3 linked regions of the Homo sapiens genome follow. The protein of the gene in region 2 interacts with the protein of the main gene of each other region in a biochemical or structural test. Each region holds a gene or a part of one and is shown on either strand. Other genes may lie near its edges.

Region 1 (7,722 bases), on a different chromosome or scaffold from region 2:
TGCTTCCGAATCTACACATTTATCCTTCAGGCAGCAGAACAAAGCAGAGCAGAAACACCAAGAAAAGGCTCAAACCCTGCTCCCTGTGGCTCATGACAAACCCAAATGATACAAGGAGCAGAAACCACCAAGTGAGGATTCTCTCCCCTTTTCTAAACAATCCCCTCAGGAAACAAGTTTGGCGAATTGGCTTTCAAAACACAAGATCACAGGCGCCTCCCTCCAGAAGAGCCATTTACAGAAGCTGGAAGCATTTTAAAGGAGGAGGGAACAGACTCCTCCGTGACATCTTGGTGTGTCGAGGCAGGGAGGGTTCTGGGGCCGAATTGGAAGGATTTGCTGGGATTCCGGCGGTCATTTAGACAAAAACATTTTCAGGATGGAAGGTTTCCCCACACTGAGGCTGGATCTGAGCAGGGCTTTGTCTGGGGCCCCTACCTTGGCCCCCGAGGCCTGTATCATAAGAGGGGGTCTGGCCAGGCCACTGGGGCCTCCAAAGAGCTGTCCCGGGTGCACGTTGTTCAGAAGCATCCACACCCTGAAAAGCTGTTCTCCCATCTGGCACCCCAAGAGGACCATCTTTTCCAACTTGTCCTCCGTGACCTCTGGGTGTCTATCCCAGGGGTTTTCAGTCCTGACTCTGTATTAGAATCTTCTGGATTAATTAAAAACTTTAGATGCCTAGGCCCATGCCAGGCCAATTGAAGAGGCATTTCTGTGGTGGAGCCTGGGATTTATTTCAATGTTTCCCAGATGATCCTAAAGAGCAGCCAAGATTGAAAACTACCTGAGTACATCCTAAGGACCATTTATCCTTGAGGCCTGGAGGAGCACTAACCCATCTGAGGTTGCATGGCTTCAGCATCACACAGCTCACATCTGTTGAACATTGACTGCAGGCCAGGCGCCTGCTGCCCTAAGCACGCTACAGGATTTAACTCATTCGGTCCCAACTCCTGGTCTGTGAGGTTGGTGTTATCACTGACAAGTGAGGACACTGAGGCCCATGGTGGTGGAGTGCCTTGTCCCAGGTCACAGAGCCAGGAGGTGGCAGAGCTGGGATGTGGCCCAGGCAGTTGGACTCTGGCCACACTCTCCTAACCACACTTCTGCAGGAGCTCAGTGATAACCCGAACACCGCCACCATTCCGAGGCTCTGTACATCCTCTCCAATCCTCACAGAACCTGTGAGGGTTGGCAATCATCATCATCATTTCATAGACAGGGAAGCTGAGGACTCAAGGGAAGCCAGGATTTGCCCAAGATCACATGACCTTGGGAAAACCCCATTGCTTACTAAGGTCTATCGTCGCCCCAGGCTCATTGCATCCTCATAACATCCTGGAAAGGTTGGTACAATTATCGACGTTCTACGCATGGGGAAACTGAGGCTCAGCAAGGGGAACTGGGTTGCCCAAGGTAACACATCTTAAAATAACACCTTGATGGCAGGGCGCAGTGGCTCACACCTGTAATCCCAGCACTTTGGGAGGCCGAGGTGGGGGGATCACCTGAGGTCAGGAGTTTGGGACCAGCCGGGCCAACATGATGAAACCATGTCTCTACTAAAAATACAAAAAAAAAAAAAAAAAAAAAAAGCTGGTGTGGTGGTGGGTGCCCCTGTAATCCCAGCTACTTGGGAGGTTGAAGCAGAATCGCTTGAACCCAGGAGGTGGAGGTTGCAGTGAGCCGAGATGGTGCCATTGCACTCCAGCCTGGGCAACAAGAGTGAAACTCCATCTCAAAAAAAAAGAAAAAACAAACAAACAAACAAAAAACCTTGATTTGGGGGTGTCTACTCTGCATTGGGTGTTTTATACACAGGAACTCAAATCCTTTCCACTCTGCCAAAGGAGTCCCTGATTATCACCATTCTACAGATGAGGAAACTGAGGCTGAGAAAAGCGAAGGCACTGTCTCCTCATCCCTCATGTACCCAATGGGCATTTCCAGTGTTCCCCAAGCTCTCATGTCAATCAATTGAGCAAGTGCCTGAACTTCATGAACCCTGACACTGACCACCACCTTCCCTTTTTCCCTTTGAGATCCCTGACTTCATGCAGTTCTAGGGAGAAGCCTCCCTCCAGGGTACCCAGATCTGGTTACCCTATAGCCATAAACTGAAGTCAGTGGGCTCCTGACAGCCTGAGGGGATAATATAAACTCTTGCTCCAATGAGCCCCAAGCACCCACCAGGAAATGCCTCATCTCCTCATCCTTAGTCCTCAGCACCGTGAGTAGGTGGGCACGTGGTCTGCTGGGCTGCAGGAGGCCCAACTCTGCTCCATGGATGCTACTCAGTGATGTGCTGAGACCTGTCCTTTAGGAACAAGTTCCCATATCATGAGACATCTGCAGGACCTTTCTGATGGGGGCCAGTCCCTCCTACTCCCATAGGACTTGTTTTGTTTTTTCTTTCAAGACAGAATCTTGCTCTATCACCCAGGCTGGAGTACAGTGGTGCGATCTCGGCTCACTGTAATCTCCGTCTCCTGGGTTCAAGCATTCTCCTGCCTCAGCCTATGCTTATTGCTATAGAACTGCAAGAGTTTGGAATGAGTAGGGTGGAGCATTTCTCCACACTTTGACAAGCATAGCTGAGTGTTACAGAGACAGGGGCTGTGAGTCAGGCTGGTGGGGATCAAACCTTGGCTCCCCCACTGGCTCACCACACAGGTCTCCTCTCTGAGCCTCAGAGTCCTTATCTGTAAAGGGGGCAAGAAATGGCTCTTCCTTCATAAGTACTTGTTATAAAAGGAGAAAGTGCCAGGATGAGGATCCAATCCAGCTGCTGCTCCCTGGCCCCCTCCCACCTCCCTCCTTTCTCATCCAGGGCATCATTTAGGCTGACAGCATGGCAAAGAGGAGTGAGCACTCTGCTAGGAGTCAGCAGATCTGGGTCACACCTGAGCCACGTATTTGCTGTGATTGTCTAGGCACGAGATGCATCATCTGGGAACTTCAACGTCTTTTCCTGTAACATCTGCACAATCAGGATAAAGCCACCCTCCCTGCCTATGTCCAGCGGTTGTGGGGAGACTTGATTGTTATAATGTCTAGGAGGGAAATTAGGCCATATCCACACACATTAAAACACACACCCCCTCTGATCTAGCAATGGCACTTGCAGTGGGCGTCTCCCACCTGAGTAAGGTCACACATGTATAAGGTCATCCACTGCAGGACTGTTTTAATAGTTCAAGTTTGGGGACAAGTTACGTATCCATCAATGGAAGATGGTAAAATAAATCTGGTATTTCCATAAGCTGGAGTATTCTGTAGCTATTACACAATGGAGCAGGTCTCTATCCTGATATGAAATCTCAGTATCAAATGATATGGCTTACATTTGGGAGCGGTTTTCCAATCACCAGTGGGCCTAACGGTCTGAATGTGAATATTCTGAACCTTTAGGAAACTGATGGAAAGGAGAAGTGCTGGCTTCCTGCTTAGCAGTTCTGTTCAAGGAGCTTTCAGTCGGCACCTATGATGCACCAGGCTCTTCTATGTAAACAATGGCTAATGAAGGAGCCTCCCTGGAATCAGATGTGGGCTCTGGTCCAGATCCTGTCACTAACTGGGCCTATGACTGTGGACAAGGCCCCTGTCATCTCCTGACTTCAAGTTTCCACCTGTAACTAGGGGTTGGGCTGGATGGTCTGAGGGTCCTTCCTGTACTAATGTCCCAGGATTCGGAGTTAGAACAAGGATCCTGGGGCTCTGGCAGTAAATACAAAATGAGCATCTTTGCTGCCTTAACGGAGGAACCCAAAGTCACCTAGAAGGGAGACCTCCTCCCTGGGGTGAGAGACATTCTATGATGACCCAGCTTTGTTCAGAGCCTTTAGTGACGCATGAATCAGTCCCTAAATCACACAAGTGTTTTTCTAAAAGACCCACAGAAAATGCCCAACCCTCTGGCTTCTCCTCTCACCAGGGCCATCAGATTAAACAGTAAATCTGTGCCTTTTAGGAATCTTCTCAGTTGGTGTTTGGTGATGAAATAAAGGAAACACACCCTCTCTGCTCCCTGCCCTGGGTGGATCTCTTATTGGAAGGGATGAGAACACAAGCTTGGCGGAGCCTGGCACACAGTAGGTTCTCAGTGAGTGCCTGTCACATAGAGGAGACTCGGCTGCCCTGAGAGGGAAGTGCTCTCTGGAGGCAGCAGGTGAGGTCTGGTCCTGTGCCTGGGCAAGTCACACTATCTGTCAGTTTCCTCATCTGTGGAATGAAAGGGCTGGGTCAGCTTTGAAGAGGCCAGGGCTACACAGCCAGGCAGATGAAGGATGCAGATGTTCCCACCCTTTACCAGCTGTGGAGCCTTCAGCAAATAGCATGACGTCTTCAGGCCTCAACTTCCCTTATTTGTAAAAGGGGGAGACATCAATTCATGGAAAGGAGCACCTACCACCACACCTGATCATTGCTCAAAGAATGGAGGGTGTTATTATTGAGTTACTGTCACAAACCAGAGGCAAAGGAGGCCCACGCTGTACTCACCGCGCACAGACAGCTCAGTGCCTGCTCCAGACTTAAACTCCACGTCATCGGGGCTCCCTTTCCGGAACTTCACACAGTAGTAGGTGCCGGCATCTGCTGGGGTGATGTTACCGATGCGGATGGAAAAGTCCATGTTGTTTCTCTTTGTGAGGTCTGAAACAGTTGTTACCCGGGGGAAGTGGCCTTCTTTTTGATTGTAGATTAATTCCCGGCCTGGTCCAGCTCCTCTGAACCACTGGATGGGCCCCACAGGGATCAGAGAGGTCGCAGTGCAGCGCAGAGTGGCTGTCTCTCCAGCTGCAACCAACACGGACTTGTCAGGCTGAATCACCTGCAGCTCCTCCTCACCCGCCACTCCTGGAAAGGAGCACAAAGCAGTCATTTTTTCATCCTTACGTGATCCTCTGTGTTTCCTCAAGTGTTTATCAATGACGTTCATTGACTGGATGCACACCAGAAGCAGGCTGTGAGATCAGTATAGTGCATGTATCATCTCATTTGACCCTCACAACAAACCTGCAACATGAGCCTGTATTCTAAGTGGGGACACTGAGGCACAGAAAGCTAAATGACATGGCAGAGAGTGGGTTTGAATGCCTGGACCCTCTCTGGAAGAGTCACATCTGAGCTGGGCTAATTCTAATCTGAATGAGCCAGAAGGGAGCCTGGTATTCCAGACAGAGGGAACAGCCTGGGCAAAGACTCAGAGGTAGGGGCCTGGCATATCTGGGGCTGTACAAGGTGTTAAGATTCTGTTTCTGGCCTGGCCCAGGATGCAGGCCCCGAGAAGGGAGGCTGTACTCAGCGGTTTGGGCAGTAGGAGAATGTAGTTTGAGTTCTGGATCAGTGGCCTATAGCTGTGTCCTTGGGCCACCACTCAGGTAACCAAGAATATCCAATGTAGACTCGTGCCAGTGTGTTTGAGTCCCCACCTGGAACCCAGGACTGAGCCTGGCTAGCAAAGTGTCACACAAATGCAAGAGCTGCCCTTAGTTTGCCCTTACTGCTCTCAGCCTTGGTTTCTTCATCTGTAAAATAGTTACTATGACCCCACCTCGATGGATCTCTGGGAGGATAAAATAAGCCAAGGCTGGGGACAGCGTCCAAATGCAGCATCTGGTCTTTAGAGTCATCGGACCTGGTTTGAAACCTGGCTCGCCCCTTGTTCTTGTGGGACCTTAATTTATCCATCAGTTTTGAGTCTCAGTTTTCTTATCTACAGGATGGGTAGAACAGCCCCCAGGCCTCTGCTTTGTTCTGAAAAGAAAACGAGATCACACATAGAAGTCACTTAGCCCTGAGATGGGCCCTGAGGAAGTTGTTGTTACTATACATTGAATAAACAAGGAGGTGGCTGTGGCTCAAACTTCACTCTCACCAACACCTGCTGATGCCCTGTGATCCAGGCCTCACTGTGATGGGGACACACTGGAGCTGGACCCAGTCCAGGCCTCAAGGGCTCCCAAATGGGCAGCTGGAAGGAATTGTAGAGGTTGGCTGCAGGAGCCTGAGCCCCAATCAGAGACACTGGGGCACACAAGACAGGGACCCTGGGTGGAGAGATTGGGGTGCACGGGGGGAGCCCAGACAGGAAGAGGGCAGGACGAGCTTGTCATGAGATGCGTTGAAGATGGATAGGGACCAAGTGAGAACAGTTCAGAGCAAGGCAGAGCCAGGGCCTCGATTCTGAACAAGGTGAGGTACAAGAAACAAAAAAAAGAAAGATCATGATCATAAAGACCTCAGAGAAACACATGCCTGAGAGACAGACGCAGAGTGAGAGAGCGAGCTAGAATAGGGGAGAAGGAGAGAACCAGGTAGACAGAGGAGTGGCAGCTACCTGGTATGCAGGTGACAGGTGACCTGGGGCCCCAGTTGGGCTCTCCACTGACCCTTCATGTGACCTTGTCCTGCCCTGACCTGGGCCACCTTTGCCTTGTACATCAGACAAGGCTGCGGCAGATGTCCAGAGCTGCTGTGCCCCTCTGGCTCTGGCTGGGGAGGAGAGAGACCCTGTGAATTTGCCCACCAACCCATGGCCTGGCACCACCCCACTGGCAGGGGCAGGGCAGCCAGGGAAAGAGGCTCACAGACCCCTATCTGCCCTCACTGCAGGAAGCCCAGGGCTATCTGCCCATTGTCCTGCCTCTTTCTCCCATTCCCAGCCTCACCCAGTCTTGACTCTGGCAAGGGATCACCCTTGGGGCCCGGTTCTCATGGCAGGTGAGTGGAGTCTCAGAGTGCCTAAGACCACTCCACCTGCTTTGGGTGTAAATATTACCATTTCGACTTCCTTTTCCTGATCAACCACTTAAGACCTCAACTGCTTTTATTATCAGGAAGTCCAGCTTCTCATTTCATTTCCATTTGAAGTTGAACATGGCAAGATCTTCATGGCACAGGAGAAAAAAACAGAACCCACAGTGGACAGACAGAACCCACAGTGGACAGAGGCCCAGCCAGCATCAGACGGCCTGAGAGGGGTGAGGCTGGTGGCCAAATGTGTGGGAGGCCCGGGAGGCCCATCCAGGCGGGGACATCAGAGGCAGCACCAGCAGCACTGAGCTAGGAACTTTCCGGATAGGTCTGTATTTCAGCCTCGAGACTGGACCAACTGGAAAGGCTGCCTCGGGGAAGCACAGTTGCTAGGGCCAGCAGGCCTGGGTGACAGCATGGCTCCCCTCTTAGCCACCTCTGTACCCACCTTCCCTGGACCCCCATTCCATCATCCATGAAGTGGGGTTCCGGCATCCACCCCAGCACAGTCATGAGGACCCTGACACGGTGGTATGCCTGCTGCATAGGTGCTGGGTAAGTTTTAATTCTTATTCCCATTATTATCACATAGCTGTATTATTCACATATTTGATTTTCTCTGGATTGTCACATTCCCAATAGTAGGATGTAGGATCCACAAGGGACTGTTTCCAACCTCCTGCCTAAAACACAGTGTCATCGATAAAAATATGCAGAATGAATGCGGTAATGAATGAAGGAAGGAAGGATGTCGTTGGCTCCATGACCCTGGGCAAATCTCCTCTCTCTTCATGTGTTAGGTGGAGTTGATACTGGCATATCCAGGGGAGGGTGCAGGCCCGGAGCCCGGGACTCAGCCTGGCTTGCAGTTATTATTATCCTTATCAATAACACCACAAGGGGCTGTGAGTCAGCAGTTGGTGAGGGAGCAGGAGGCGCAGGAGAGGCTGCGGAGTCAGGCGT
Region 2 (8,319 bases):
GACAAATCACAAGACTCTCCCAAAATTGCTCTCCTACAAATCACAGTACATTTGTAATTTAACTCAAATATTTTCAAACTTCTGTTTTATATTTATGATTCATATGGTAAAATTCATTATTTTTCTTATACACATTTAAAAAGATATATTTTCTTCTTTGCCTACTACAAACAATAAATCTGGCATAAAGAAGTAATGATTTTTAAAGATTAAAACATCATTAAATGTAATTTAAAAGGATAAAGTAACACTTAGCTTTTTGGATAACTGTTAAGTCCATTTTTACATAGTGATCCTAAAGATTCAAAATCACAACAAAAACTTGATATAAGCAAGTCCTAAAATTCATTAGGAAAACGGAGAGTCTCCCATGACCATCATGTAACTTAGGATTTATATCAGCACACAGGTGGCAATATGCAGAGCAGACACAAGTGAATCTTGTCCTGCCAGACCTCTGGGGAAGGAGTCTGGATTTTCAAGTAGGGCATGGAAGAGTGTGTATGCATACTTGTAGCCGAGCACATGTATGCAGGCATGAGGTCACGCCTACTCCACAAATGTCCTTCCAAAGGAGTGTGAGGAAATGTCTGGCCTATAAAGCTAGTTATCCTCATATATACCAGTAGAAACGGACCCAAGCCCAGCCCCTTGGCACTCCTGCTGAAGCAATTTGATTTTTCAGTTCAGTTTTATTTTACCTGAGTGGAAAAATCTGTGGCTGTCTCCCTCCCTGCTTGGTAACTAATAAGGATCTACCTAAAGCAGATATGCTGGACCGTCAGGCAATGGGAGCTGCAACGCCTCTTATTAGCCAAGCGAACCCAGGTAACTTACTCCCCTATCAACAAGGTGTGTGTGTGTGTGTTTAGTAGACAGGAACTTGCTCTGTCATCCAGGTTGGAGCGCAGTGGCAGTGGAGCGCAGTTCACTGCAGCCTCCAACCCCTGGACTAGAGCAATCCTCCCACCTCAGCCTCCCAAGGAGCTCAGACTGCAAGTGATATGGTTTGGCTCTATGCCCCCACCCAAATCTTACCTCGAATTGTAATATAATTCCCATGTGTTAAGGGCGGGACCAGTGGAGGTAACTGAATCATGGGGGCAGTCTCCCCCATGCTGTTCTCGTGATAATGAGTGAGCCTCATGACATCTGATGGTTTTATAAGCCACTGGCATTTCCCCTGCTTGCATCTATTCTCTCTCCTGCTGCCCCGTGAAGAGATGCCTTCTGCCATGCAGAACTGTGAGTCAATTAAACCTCTTCACTTTATAAATTACCTAGTCTCGGGCAGTTCTTTATAGCAGCATGAGAACAGACTAATACAATAAACACGAGCCAAGAAGCCTGGCTAATTTTTAAATTTTCTGTAGAGACAGCCTCTCGTTATGTTTCTGAGGCTGGTCTCAAACACCTGACCTCAGGCAATCCTTCCACCTCAGCCTCCCAAAGTGCTGGGATTACAGGCGTGAGCTTCCGCACCCTGCCACAGTTGGTTCTTAAGGCTGGTTGAGCTAGTACATATGTAGCACCTGGCACAGAAGAGGTGAATTAATAAGCTCATGTTTGGGCTGGCCAGGTGGCTCACGCCTGTAATCCCAGCACTTTCGGAGGCCAAGGTGGGCGGATTGCCTGAGCTCCGGAGTTCAAGACCAGCCTGGGCAACATGGTGAAACCTTGTCTCTACTAAAATACAAAAAAAAATTAGCAGGGCATGGTGGTGTGCACCTGTAGTCCCAACTACTCGTGAGGCTGAGGCAGGGGAATTGCTTGAACCCAGGAGGCGGAGGTTGCAGTGAGCTGAGATCGCGCCACTGTACTCCAGCCTGGGAGACAGAGAGAGACTCTGTCTCTAAAAAAAAAAAACAATGAATAAATAAGCTCATGTTCACAAATCTGGAGTCAGTCTCATCTACTCACAAAACCTGTTACCAACTCAGGGAGTGGCATGGCCATCTCCCAGTCACTGAGCTCAAATCTCAGATTTAGGGTTGATTCCTTCCACTCCATCCCAAGACCTGCTCCTTCCTGTCTCCAACATTCTACCTTCCCAGTCCAGCCTCTGCTGCCCACAGATTGGACCACATCAATCTCCTGTGCAAAAATCCTATGATCTGTCCATTCCTAGGCAGATTTCCACCCCACCCCATCTTCATCCATCAACAAAGCAACCCAGTCACCAAATCATTTACTGTTTTTCAACTGTGCCCAACATTTCTGCTTTGCTCCAGCTACTCGCCCTTGGAAACAGCCTCTCCACAAATTTTTGCGTCTCTAAATCCTATAGCATTCAAAGCTATGTACAAAAGCCCCTTCTTTCATAAAGTTGTCTGAGACTTACTCACAATTAAGCTTTCTTTGACTTGCGTCTCACTGAATTCTGTACCTCTATTAGAGCATCGGTTCCAGTTTTCCTTGTAAAGCTCTGTGATGCCTCCAGAGTCCCCGGCGGGGGAAGGTGGGTGGGGAGGGGGTAGAGTAGTGGGGTATTTTGCTTTTTAACATCTTATGGACCTTGGACAGTGCCCTGCATATACTATGTGCTCGAAACAGTTTGTTGAATTGAAATTATGTATATTTCAGACGGAATTAGAAAGTAAAAAGCAAACCATATTATGATCTCACAAGTGTGAGTCCAGCATCCTCATTAAGCAATGGTTGCACAATGGACTGTGCTGGAGGCTCAAGTCCTGTTTCTGTTCTATGAAAATAACTCCTTATCTATACAAACAACATTCAAAGCACAATCAACCACACCTCTGCATACCTACCACAGAACTCTTCAGTACCGGCCAGAAATTTTTTTAAGACTATATTATTTTGGGGTGGGGGGTCTGCAAAAACTAAACATCACTTTTAAACTCTAGGAAGACATTAAGCCCTTCCATCTTTGAACATAGAAACATAATTAAGATTCCGAAGTCATGTACTCATTCATCTGATTCCATGAACATTTACTGACCTGCCACCTTGTGCCCCAACAAGGGCCTGGGGATTCAACCAAAGGAGCAGCTACGCACAGCACGTTAGGTGCCAAGACTGTCGAGGTTATATACACAGAGTGCGAACGTTAACCTAGACAGCTCTCGAGGATGGCATACAGCAAATGAAACTTTCTGCGAAAAGAAGAAAACGTGACTGATGGAAAGGGGTGGAAACGGGAGAAAGTGACGGTAAATGGGAAGGTGCAGTGCCTTCTAGAGGAAAATTATATTTCACAAGTCCTCTTCACTGCCAGAGCACGACTGGCAAGGACAATCGTGCTGAGCAGTGCCATCTCCGAGAACAGGTGGCACTGCTCGCACTTGGAATACTCAGGACGCGTTCTTCCTCTGGGATCACTATTCGCGGGTCAGCACAGACGGCCCGTCCTCGCCCGGCGTCCAACTGCACGGCCCGAGGACTCTGTCCCTGCGCGTCCCACCCCCGGCACCCGGAACCTCACGGCCACTCACTCTGCGCGCAGGATCCGGAAGGGCTAGGCGGGGGCGCGGCGGTGCAGCCTCTCCCGAGCGCGCTGGGTCGCCTCTGCTCGGTCTGGGGTCTGCCAGGCGCGATCCCCCCGGTGCAGCCGAGCCCCTCCGCAGACTCTGCGCAGGAAAGCGAAACTACCCGGCAGGAGAAAAGGCAGCGCTGGCGCCCGGCCCCCTTCCGCCCCCACCAATCACCGGGCGGCTCCGCGCTCAGCCAATTAGACGCGGCTGTTCCGTGGGCGCCACCGCCTCCCTCTGCGGGCCGCTGCTCCGCCCACGCGCTGGGGTATTTCCGCCGGCTTCCGGCGGGGGCCGCCGGCTGGGTGAGCTGCAGCCCAGTCCCGTGTTGCCACGCTGGGAACTGGCGTTCTGTTTACATATCTTAGAGAACGATCAGAAGGACGTGCTGTGTTTGCAGAAGCCCAAACTTGGAGGTCTCTGTAGTAGTTTCATCGCCGAGAATCCAGGCAGAGGACAGATTTGGCGACGTCGTCATTCTAGAAGCTCCCTTTAGCAACTGACCTCCGTGTTGCTAAACCCAGGGAACGCTTTTCTGTTTTTCTCACTTTACTTGACAGCTCGGAAGCATGGGGCAGAGTTGACGCCTTTGTTCTTGAAACACGTTTCTTCCTTGGTCATGATGATAACACATCCTTCTTGCTTTTTCCTGCCTCTGGCATTCTTTCTACATTGCCTCCACCTCCACTATCAAACCATTATATGTTAAGGTTGTCAGGGTCCAGACATTCGTCAGCTTCTTTACCTGGGCTTCTCCTAAACGCTGTGCTGTGATGACCTCACCCACAGCTTCAGTTTCCTTCTAGATGGAGGAGTCTTAAATGCTTATCCCGTCCACACCTCTCCTCTGGGCTTCACACCTACAACTCCCACTTGCCTCTCCACTTGTATGTGCAGTGAGCTCTACAAACTATGTTCAGAACCAAACATCTTTCTCCTCAAACCTGCTCTTTTTCTAGAAATGGCACATGACAGATACCTAGGATTCATAGTTGACATTGCCTTCTCCCTCACCTCGCAACACCTGATCCTCAAATCTTAATTGATTCTTCCTCCTAAATATTTCCCAAGTCTCATTTACTCTGCTCCATCTCTTCTGCTGCCTCCTTCTGCAGTAGATTCCCGAATGGCTGCCTCACTTCAGCCCTTATCTACCTTTTAATCCATTCTCCATACAAGAGTTTGAGTGTTTTTTTTTTTAATTGAAAAGCAGATCATGTCATTTGCCAACCTGAAAATCCTTCCATGGCTTTTCTTTGCTCTTATAAAATTCAGTTTCTTAATACATACTATAAAGCCCTGGTTGCCCGATCTCTTTGTCCAACCCCATAATGTGCCACTCTGCTTTGCTTACTTCAGCATTTAGTTCTTCAAATAAACCACACTCTCCAAACTCAGGGACTTCTCACCCTGAGTTTGGAAAACCCCTTGAGCCAACATCTGCTTCACCCAACTCTTCGCTGGCTAACTCATCTTTTAGATCTTAGTTTAAAAATCTCAGCTTAAATGTCACTTCTCCAGGTAGGCATTGCTGAAGCCAGACAAACTAAATCTTTTTGGACTATATGCTCATAAAATCAATTAGTTCCTTCAAGTAGACGGGATTTGAGTCAAGCCTTGAATAATTAGGCACTTTGGGGTAGGAGAAGGATCTGAATAATTTCCCATGGATATGCCTATATGTGTGTGTATGAGTTTTTTTTCTTTGCACATCTATTTGTTCTTCTTGTCACAAATGCACCCTCACAAAGCAAGTTAGCAGTGAAATTAGACTTCTCTGCCAAGAGATGCCACGGCACCAAAAGTGTCCCTTCTGCTCTTACTCACCCAAGAACCAAGACAATGTTTTACTGTTCTCTGAAAAAAGCTGTATTAATCCATTTTTAACGCTGCTAATAAAGACCTGAGACTGGGCAATTTACAAAATAAAGAGGTTTAATGGACTTACAGTTCCACATGGCTGGGGAGGCCTCACAATCATGGCGGGAGGCAAGGAGGAACAAGTCACATCTTTCATTGATGGCGGCAGGCAAAGAGCTTGTGCAGGGAAACTCCCATTTTTAAAATGATCGGATCCTCGAGACTCATTCACTATCACAAAAACAGCGCAGGAAAGTCTCGCCCCCATAATTTAATCACCTCCCACCAGTTTCCTCCCATGACAGGTGGGAATTGTGGGAGTTATCATTCAAGATGAGATTTGGGTGGGGACACAGCCAAACTATATCAAAAGTTGACTCTAGGAAGGGTAGATTACATGTTAAAAATTTTTTTTCTGGTACTATAAAACTTGCACAGATATTAGCTTCAATATTGATGAAGGAATGGAATAATCCTAACATCTGCAAATAGGATTATTTGGCACTCCAAATCCCAATTTGGATCATCAAGATCTGTGGATGCTTCCTTCCCTACCCCCCTTTATTTTAGCATCCACAGCAATACCTACCATAAGCCTTCATCACTTGAGAATTGGAATGCTATGCTAATCTCTAGGTATACTACCTTTTTCTTGTCTCTTTCTCCTTCACTATATTTGCCAAATTCAATTCCTTAAAATACTGCATTGATATAGTCATTCCCTGCTCAAAAGCCTTAACAACTCTCCTTGCACATATGATAAACACAAATGTTGTCTGCTAGTCTGGATCCTCCACAAAATGTTTCTTTCCTTCTTTCCAGCCTTTTCTATCATTGTCGCATTTCCCAACTAACCTCGTCTAGCTCCAGCACTCCCCCCATGCTTTTAATTTCCTGATTTCTGCCCCTTTGTACATACTGAATGGCAAGTCTTGCTCCTCACTCTCTTCACTTACCAAATTCTTATTCACCTGTTAAAGCCCAGCCCAAATACTATATTCTCTTTCTAGAACCACCTCAACCTGTAGCAATTAATCTGGGGTCTCTGAATGACCAAATAATATATGTGTCTCTATTTATTTGGACAATAACTATACACTCTCTAATATTATGGTTTTTGAAGTGTCCAATCCTTATGCCTCCAAGATTCAATATTCCTGAAGGATAAACTATTTATATTTTCTTACTGTATAACATATTGACTGCTTCAAAAAGCAATCAAACCAAAGCCAAACAAAAACCTAGAAATCCAGAATTTGACAGATACAAATGTGTGACGGTTGCCTTATAACAGTCAGCTTGGAAAGCTATATCTATATATCAACAATGTCAGATTTGCAAAAGACACAAAACTAGAAAAAACAGCTAACACTATGTCTGTAGATTGTACTATTTTCAAATCTCTTCTGTCCCTTCCCACTGCTTGCCATGGTTCACTAAGGGTGGAGTATACCTCTCTGTGTGCTGTAACTCTGACCTTGGCTATGTGACTTGTTCTGGATAAAGGAATATGAACAGTTGTGATGTATATACCATCTGTCCTGAAACTGCGTGTTCTTTGTAATCAACTTGTTCTTGTGTGCTCCTTCCCTCTGCTAGGAGACAGCATGCCTCAGGTTCCCACGCTAAATCAAAATTCTAAATAATCTAAATATTCTAACGGACTGCTGCTGGTCTGAAACCAACTGGATACTATGTATGTATGTATATATGTATGTATGTATGTATTGATGACAGAGTCTCGCTCTGTCGCCCAGGCTGGAGTGCATTGGTGCAATCTCGGCTCACTGCAACCACCGCCTCCTGAGTTCAAGCGATTCTCATTCTTTAGCCTCCCAAGTAGCTGGGATTATAGGCCTACATCACCAAACCCGTCAAATTTTTTGTATTTTTAGTAGAGTCAGGGTTTTGCCATGTTGGCCAGACTGGTCTCACACTCCCGGCCTCAGGTGATCTGTCTGCCTTGACCTCCCAAAGTGCTGGGATTACAGGTGTCAACCACTGTGCCTGGCCTCAACTGGATAACTTTTTTTTTTTTTGAGACCAAGTGTCACTCTGTCGCCCAGGCTGGAGTGCAGTGGCGCGATCTTGGCTCACTGCAACCTCCCCCTCCTAGGTTCAAACGATTCTCCTCCCTCAGCCTCCCATCAACTGGACAACATTTAAAACAATAAATGCAACTACTTGTATTGGATTTAAAAGAGCAACAAATGACAGGGTACACTGTCACCAGCAATCAATCAGAAGCAACAGGTAAGGTGAAATTTCCTATTTGCCACCCCTGAACTGGTGTACAGACAAAGGAGAGTCAAGGACAGTGAGGAATCCAGAAAATACTATTATATGATGAGTAACTGATGTGAAGTCACCGGAGTAACTCATAAGTTCACATGATGTTACAGTAGAAAGACTTAAGAACTACTCCACACTTCCCATTTGGAGGAACTGTATTTTGCTTGGAGAAAAGACAGTATCATTCCTATTCTTCACTCACTGTTTCTTTTATACCCAAATCATCCAGTTCTATTTACTTAGTTTATCTGCCTTGTTGCACAAAGCATTTTAAAGCAACTTATAGCAGAAATATCTACAATAACTAGATAAAGAATACAGTACAGCCTGCAAACCAGGGCAAAAAGATATCAGTTACGTAGTTTTCATTATATGAAACTGAAACTAAGAAGGCTCTCCTGATCAATGATTTTCAATAATGGCCAGATTATTCCCTGCTCTGTTATTTCCCCACCTTGCAGCAGATGTGACATTGTGACATTTAGAGTCTAGGCCTCAAGAGGCCTTACACACTCCGCTCTCAAAACCCTGCCCAGCCTCCATGAGAAGTCCGGCTAGCTTGCAGGAGCATGAGAGACCACACAGACCACAGTTGAATCACAGTAGTTGTTCAAGTTTAGACCTCAGATTTATGAGAGAACCCAGGCAAGATAAAGTGGGGGCCTGACCCAGGTGA
Region 3 (7,722 bases), on a different chromosome or scaffold from region 2:
TCCCAGCACTGAGGTGGAACAGCCAGAAAGAGCTGATGGGGCCCTGGCATCAAGGAGCCGGAAAGGGTGCTGAGATCTCAGGCGTGCTCAGCCTGTTTGCTCAGCACCAGGCCCTCGTTCTGATGGGAGCATCTGGATTCTCCTTTAGAGAGAACTTAATGCTCCTTGCTCCTCTGCCCTGGTCCATAAAGGGGTGGGTTCAGCTTGTCCACCCCGACTTGGGGCATGTATCTTGTCCACCCCAACTTGGGCATGGACATAGGATCTACCCAAGCCAATAGGAGTCTATCCTGGGACTTTTGATAGAAGTACTGGAAAAGACGGGGCCTCCTCTTTCCTGGGGGCTGTTAAGCTACAAGCTAACAGGACAAAATCTTATTTTGTCTTTGCCACCACAAGAGGAACAGCTGCCCAAGTACAAAGATTCCACCAAGGGAAGCAGAACAGAAAGGCAGAGACAGTTGTTTGAGAATCCAGATCTACCTGGGCCTTAAGCCGCCGGACTTACCAATTCTATAAACCACTATGTTTTTTTCTTTGAAAAATTTACTAACCAGAACTGAGGTTCTATTACTCATAACCCAATGTCAACTCCTCTGTTTCATATATAAGGGACTGAGGCCCAGGGAGAAACTGATTTAGCCCAAATCACACAGCTTATCACTCACGGCAGAGGCAGAGCAGGCCACAGGACTCCAGACCCTGCTTCAATCCTCTGCAGTCCACAACAACCGCCCTCTCACGTGCTCCCCAATTTCACAGCCTGACAGTCAGGACTTTGCCAGCCAAGGCCCTTGTTCTCCATTCTCCTTCCCACACAATCACAAGCCTGCCTGGAGGCAGGTCCCATGGCCACCAGCCCTGCCCCTGGACGTACCACATCCCTCTCCTCATTGTGCTCATCCTTGACGATGAAGATCATGTCGAAGCGCGACAAGATGGTGGGCATGAAGTCAATGTTGTCCTCCCCCTTCGTCTCATCCCAGCGGCCGAACACTGAGTTGGCAGCAGCCAGGACGGAGCAGCGGGAGTTCAGGGTGGTGGTGATCCCAGCCTAACAGGCGACAGACGACGAAAAGGGGGAGGAGATGGCAAAGATGCCTTCTTATATACACGTTTACACACACACACACACACACACACACACACACACACACACACACACACACACACACACACAGATTCTAGGCCTGGGCAAAGAGAACTTGGTCCCAATCAGGGCAGCCTGAGGACGGTTGGGCCACGCTGGGCTGCTGCAGGCTGGGCTCTCCATGGAGGGCCACTCACCTTGGCGATAGAGATGGTCTGCTGCTCCATGGCTTCGTGGATTGCCACACGGTCATCTTCTCGCATCTAAGTGGGGAAGAGAGAAATATCATCAGACCTACTGAAGTGAGGGAGCAGGGAGCAGTAGAAACAGGAAAACTAACAGCAGCCCTCACTCCTGAATACCAGCTCCACGCAAGGCCAATGGCAGCAACCAGGTCACCTCTAATCATGGGAACAACTGTGTGGGCTTGCCTTTCTTCTCCCCACTCTTCAGATATGGGAACTGAGGCTTGAAGAGGTTAAGCAGCTTCCCACAGTTACTAGAGTGACCGGCCCAGGGATTGAAAACATGTCTCCCAAGTCAGAGGTGATTTCTGCTGGCTGAGCACAGGAAGTCACATACCCTGGTGCCACCCACCTTTTGGCTACTACCCACCTCATCAGACTCACCTTGTCAAACTCGTCAATACAGACGACCCCACCATCGGCCAGGACCATGGCTCCGCCCTCCATGATGAAATTCCGGGACGAAGGGTCCCTCATCACCGAGGCTGTCAGTCCAGCTGCGCTGCTGCCTTTCCCAGACGTGTATACCTGGGGCAGTGGGGTGGTGTCAGGGCCCAATAACAACTCCATGCTTTGACCCCCATAAGACAAAAAGACCCACTGAGGTTGTGATTTGCCCAAGGTCACACATCAAAGCTGGCTGCAGGGTACAGAATAGGACTCAAGGCTCCAACTCAGTGCGTCTCCCTCTGGAAGGGGATGCTGCCCTGGGCCTCGGTGTGCCCAGATGTTCTCCCCGCTGAGGGCATCACATCCATGGCTCACCTAAGCCTCACCACAGCCCTGTGACACAGTCTTGTGAGGCCCAACTCACAGATGAGCAAACTGAGGCCCAGAGAAGAGGAGTTAGCCTCAGGGCTAGGATGAGGACTCCTGACTCCCAGGGAAAGCCTGCCCCCATCGTGAGTCCCTTGTCGTCTCTATATAGACCTACACGCCACATACTGCCATAGAGCCCCTGAAATTGGGAAAGTCCTAACTGAGATGTCCTTAATCGTGCAAAATACGCACGATTTCAAAGACTCAGAGCTCCTAAGAATGTAAAGTATCTCAATAATCTACATATCAAACAACATGTTGAAATGAGATTTTAGATATAGCGAGTTAAACAGAAGTAACTTCACCTGTTTTTCCTTTTTTCTTTCCCCTTCTTCCTTTTAAATTGAAACGGGGTCTTGCTATGTTGCCCAAGCTGGTCTCAAACTCCTGGGCTCAAGTGATCCTCCCACCTCAGCCTCCCAAGTAGCTGGGACTACAGGTATGCACACAACCGCACCCAGCTACTTTTTAATGTGGCTGTTAGACAATCTGAGAAGACATACATGGGTCGCATGTGCAGTTCACTATTTCTACTGGACAGTGCCAGTGTGGCAAATTTGGCACACTTCCTATCTATCCAAAGACCACCATCTCGCCCTATACAACCCCGCCACTCGGATCATGTCAGACCTTCTCTGGCTCTGATCCCCGCAGACCCATTCAACAACGCAGCAGAGGACCCAGCTCATCAGACACTTGGGTTCAATCACATCCTGCTCTAATGCTTACCAGCAGTGAGACCTGGGCCAAGACACTTACCCATTCTGTACCTGAGTTTTCTCACCCCTAACACAGGGGTAATAGTACCTGCCACACAGTTGAGGTGAAGACTAAGTAAATATATGCAAAGTACTTCAAGCAGTGTCTGGCCCTTCATTTTAGCTATTATTATTATTATTATTATTTATTATTATTATTTGAAACATGGTCTCACTCTGTCACCCAGGCTGGAGTGCAGTGGCACAATCTTGGCTCACTGCAACCTCCCCGTTCTGGGCTTAAGTGATCCTCCCACCTCAGCCTCCCAAGCAGCTGGGACCACAGGTGCATATCACGCCTGGCTAGTTATTTTGTATTTTTGGTAAAGACAGGGTTTCACCATGTTGTCCAGGCTGGTCTCAAACTCCTGAGCTCAAGCAATCCGCCCACCTCGGCCTCCCAAAGCGCTGGTATTACAGGGATGAACCACCATGCCCAGCCAGATTTTAGCTATTAATGATAACAATATCATTATTTAGCAAATGGATAAACTGACGCTCAGGGAGATTGGGTGACTTACTCAAAGCCCACAGCCAATTTCTGGCCAGGGTGAGACCCAAACCCCATCCTGACTCTCAGTACAGTGTACTCGCCCCCTGCCCCAAACCTACATACACCTGTTGGCTCCCTTCTTCCTCCCATCTCCTCGGCCATCCTGACCGCAGCCAAGAGAAAGGAGGAAGAGATTCCGGGTGAGCCAGCCCACCACAGGTGTCCTGAGGACCCAGAGGCCCTGCCCTGCAGCCTTCCTCCCTGCAAGCCAAGGTGGCAAAGGTATCCCAGGCCACTCACCCCAATGGGAGAACACTTCTCCACAAACTTCAGAAGCTGGGACTTGGCTGTCCCAGGGTCCCCTAGCATCAGCAGGTTGATGTCTCCTCGGCGAGTAAGTCCATCAGGGAGCCTGGGGGACGAAGGGTAGATGGACAAGGTGAGAATCCATGAGGGCATCGCATGTGACATCCAGTCACCAGATTGGTGGGCTGGCAGTTGACTCCCCCAACTATCATGGGCCTCAGAGTTGGTAAGAAGGTAGTGGCTGTGGCCTGAGACCCATGTTCCTACCCAGCTCTGTAGTTCCCAAACCATGGTAGGTCTTGCCTAGCAATGAGGACAGAGCTTGCCTCCCAGAAGAGGAGGGTTAAAGGAAATGGCTCTTATGGCTGTGCTCGGGTACACCCAGCATCTGAGCAACGTTCCTCCCAGCTTGAAAGAAAAGGACAGAGAGCTGCCTGTGGGCTGTGCACGGTGCGGCAGAACAAGCACCATGACAGCAGGCTCCTGGCTCCCCTGCATGTGCTGGGGAGCAAGTCCCTTTAACTCTCTATGCCTCAATTCCCTCATCTATAAAATGGGCACAACAGCTGCGTTAACAGGTTACTGTGAGGAATGACTGGGCTTCAGACACATAAAGCACTTAGAAGAATGCCTGTGCGGCCGGGTGCGGTGGCTCACGCCTGTAATCCCAGCACTTTGGGAGGCCGAGGCGGGCGGATCACGAGGTCAGGAGATCGAGACCATCCTGGCTAACACGGTGAAACCCTGTCTCTACTAAAAATACAAAAAAAATTAGCTGGGCATGGTGGCAGGCGCCTGTAGTCCCAGCTACTCGGGAGGCTGAGGCAGGAGAATGGTGTGAACCCAAGAGGCGGAGCTTGCAGTGAGCCGAGATCACACCACTGCACTCCAGCCTGGGCAACAGAGTGAGACTGTCTCAAAAAAAAAAAACAAAGAATGGCTGTGCATAGGAAGAACACAGTAAATGGCAGCTGCTAATAATATCCCTGCTACTGACCCCAAGCTCAGTGCTGAGATTTAAGTCCTGGTACCTACACGACCCTAAGCTCAGTGCTCTCCCACTGCACTTGCCAGGCCCCCAGTCTCCCCCTTGCCAGGGTCAGGGCATCGCTGAGACAGGTGCGCAGATCAGCCACTAGCCAGCTGATGGCAAGCTTGGGGGCTGGCAAAGGTGCCTGGCAGACTGAGGGGCCCAGGAAATACAAAAAAGAGTGCCCAGTCCTGATTATCCAGTAATTATCCTACTGTGAGCCCCATCATCAGCCGCCTCCCCAAACCCAAGGGAACTCAAGCCCCTACCTCTTTCGGGAGCCCCCAAAGAGCAGGCAGGCAATGGCCTTCTTCATGTCTGTGCCCCCAAAGATGGAGGGGGCGATGCTCTTGGAGATGACCTCATAGACATTTGGGAGGGCAGCCAGGCGACGGAACTCCTCCTCCTCCTGGGGGCTCACGGCCCCAGCAAAGCTGCGGCCTTGGTAGGCAAAGCAGGCGCATGAGTGAGTACAAGGGAGCTCTTCCAGCCCACTGCCCATCCTGGCACCAGCTCAGGGACCTCCCAGAAGGCAGAGCCCTTAGGGCCCTTAGGGCCAGGACAGCACAACCTATCTGAGTAAACAGAGATCCCAGCTCTCAAGCCCTCAGGAATGGGCCTGGTGTGTTCCAGGGTCCAAAGGGTGAGGGGAAGTGGGGAGAAGGGTTCTGAGCAAACAGAGGGCCAGATGGCATAGGACCTTGGAAACCACTGGAAGGTCTCCCCTTTCAGCCGAGGAGTGATATAGTGTCTTGGTCATGACAGCATCGCTCACTGGCTGCTGCAGAACAGAGAAGGTAGGGCAAGGTGGAGACGAACACTGGGGAGGATCAACGGTGATCCAGGGAGGGCTGACAAGGGCTCAGAGCAGGTGGGGAGGATGAGAAGTGGTCAGATCCTGGACACGTTTTAAAGGTGGAGCTGGCCAGAGTTCCTGAGTGATTAGATGTGGGGGATGAGAGAAAAGAGCACCAAGGGTGACTTGGGGGTTTTTGTCTGAGCAACTGAAAGGGTGAAGATGGGAAGACTGAGAGGAGCCAGTCTGAGGGTGGGGAAAGGGGAGCTTAGCTTCAGCCATGTAAAGTTCGAGATGCCTTTCAGATATGTAAGTGAACATGTCAAATCAGCAGTTGGTTATTAAAGTCTGGAACGTGGGGAGAAGCCCAGGCTAGAAATGGAAATGTGAGAGCTACTTACCTGTCAGTGGTTTTAAAGTTGTAATAATCTAGGTAGTTTGTGTAAATGTGGGGTGGGCCATGGACTGAGCCCTGGGGAAGCCACCCCTCTGAATCAATTCACTGCAGCCAGAGGGCTGAAACAAACCTGAAAACCCTCAGTGGCCCCTGCTGCCCTCAGGTGTAAGCAGGAGCTCCCCATCTCGGCACTCAAGGCCTCTTACACCACCTGGCCCCTCATCCCCTAGACTCCCACTCGGCCCTCCAGCCACTCAGTACCTTGCCCAGGCCGGGGTTTTCACCTGCTCCTGCCATCCCCTCCCGCCTGGAAGTTCTTCCACATCCACCACTCTTCAAAGCCCAGCTCAGATTAACCTCCTCCCAGAAAACCTTCCCCAAGGCCCAGCCCCGACCTCCTCCTTCTCAGACCTCCTTTAGCACCTCCTTGGAACTGCGTGACCCACAACAGCCACCACTTTACCCACATGTCCCCAGCGGTCTCACAGTTTTCTTATTTCTCCAACTAGACACTAGGCGGCTGCCTGCCTGGAACCCTGCGTTTCACTTCTCTTGTATTTCCTGTCACAGAAGTGAAGACTTGGCTTTCAGTAATTCCCCAGTGATTTGACCTCAGTCCTTCTGCCTTAATCCTGCACTTAGGCAAACACCCTCAGCCCAGGAGCCACAGCTAGGACCAATGTGTGGAAGTTCCAGGGATCACTTAATATAAAAATGAACGTTCTAATGATATGAGCAACACAAGGACATCCTGGGCTACCTCATGAAGTAACGAGCTGCCTGTTACCAGAAGTATGCAAGCACAGCCTTTTAGCAGGGCTAAGCCAGGACCCCAAAGCCAACTCACCAGAGCCATCTGTGTCCACCTGGATGCCCAGGACACGGATGTAGGAGCTTCGGATGCCCACGCCCACCCTGTCACGGCCCCTGCTGGTAGTCAGGCCAAACTTCTTGATGGAGTAGATGCCCATGATGGTAACCCTGTTCCCAGGGACGACCTTGTCACACAGGTACCTGAGAGGAGGGTAGAGGAGAAAGGAGAAAAGCTGAGATTCTGACTTGGACAGCAAGTCTCTGATTCCACCCATGCCCAGGACACGCAGGGTCCACTGCAGCATTTTTGCCACAGGCACCACATGCTGAGCTGGCTCCAGCCCCACGGAGCCCAGAGAACGGCCTCTCTCCCCACGTCACTCAGCCCATGCTCAGCTGCTTGGAGGATGGTGTTGCCCACAGTGACAGCCAAACAGAAAGGCAGGTGGTGGCCTGACTCTCGCTGAACTCGCTAACTCATTTGTACGCTGGTTTAGGAGGCTTAGTGCCAGCCCACAGAGCCCTCCAAAAGCCCCATCTCCACGTGTCTGCTGTCAGCTCACTGTGTGGTGCCCTTTAGCCTCTCAGGGCAAGACTTCCTCTTCACGCCCCCCAGCCTCCTTGAGGGGCCACTCGCCCTTTTTGCCTCTTCATGGCTCTGTGAGCTCATTTTGCCTCTGGGTTTTCATTTCCTGTTTTCAAAATGAGATGTTGAAACAGGGAAGTCTCCAAGTCCCCCAGTCAGAGACAGGGTGGTGTGGAGGGACACTTAGTCGCTGTGTGACCTCAACGAAGTCATTGCACCTCTGAGCCTAGGGGGATGACGAAGTGGCCTGCCTCTCATGTTGTGGAGTCAGGTGAGGCAGCAGACATAGAAGTGCTTTATACCATCAGGCATCACAGCTCCAGAAAAGACCATCACCGTCACTCCATGAGCCTCCAACTCCCCTCTTCCCATACCCACTTCGTAAGTTT

The links. The genes of interacting proteins can lie anywhere in the genome.
Region 1: the proteins of STAT1 (region 2) and SIRPA form a complex in vitro, tested with the Homo sapiens proteins (one study listed by BioGRID).
Region 3: the proteins of STAT1 (region 2) and MCM5 form a complex in vitro, tested with the Homo sapiens proteins (2 studies listed by BioGRID).

Annotation. Positions count from the first base shown.
Region 1 is NC_000020.11:1,912,237-1,919,958, reverse strand, and holds part of SIRPA (tyrosine-protein phosphatase non-receptor type substrate 1 isoform 1 precursor), read right to left. Parts: exon of another isoform or gene 5,637-7,722; coding exon of another isoform or gene 5,558-5,636; intron 4,861-5,557; coding exon 4,504-4,860; intron 1-4,503. UniProt on the Homo sapiens protein: Immunoglobulin-like cell surface receptor for CD47. Acts as docking protein and induces translocation of PTPN6, PTPN11 and other binding partners from the cytosol to the plasma membrane.
Region 2 is NC_000002.12:191,010,563-191,018,881, forward strand, and holds the start of STAT1 (signal transducer and activator of transcription 1-alpha/beta), read right to left. Parts: upstream 3,610-8,319; 5' UTR 3,456-3,609; intron 3,117-3,455; 5' UTR 2,963-3,116; intron 1-2,962. UniProt on the Homo sapiens protein: Signal transducer and transcription activator that mediates cellular responses to interferons (IFNs), cytokine KITLG/SCF and other cytokines and other growth factors.
Region 3 is NC_000022.11:35,409,970-35,417,691, reverse strand, and holds part of MCM5 (DNA replication licensing factor MCM5), read right to left. Parts: intron 6,949-7,722; coding exon 6,782-6,948; intron 5,183-6,781; coding exon 5,011-5,182; intron 3,818-5,010; coding exon 3,706-3,817; intron 1,864-3,705; coding exon 1,720-1,863; intron 1,354-1,719; coding exon 1,288-1,353; intron 1,055-1,287; coding exon 878-1,054; intron 1-877. UniProt on the Homo sapiens protein: Acts as a component of the MCM2-7 complex (MCM complex) which is the replicative helicase essential for 'once per cell cycle' DNA replication initiation and elongation in eukaryotic cells.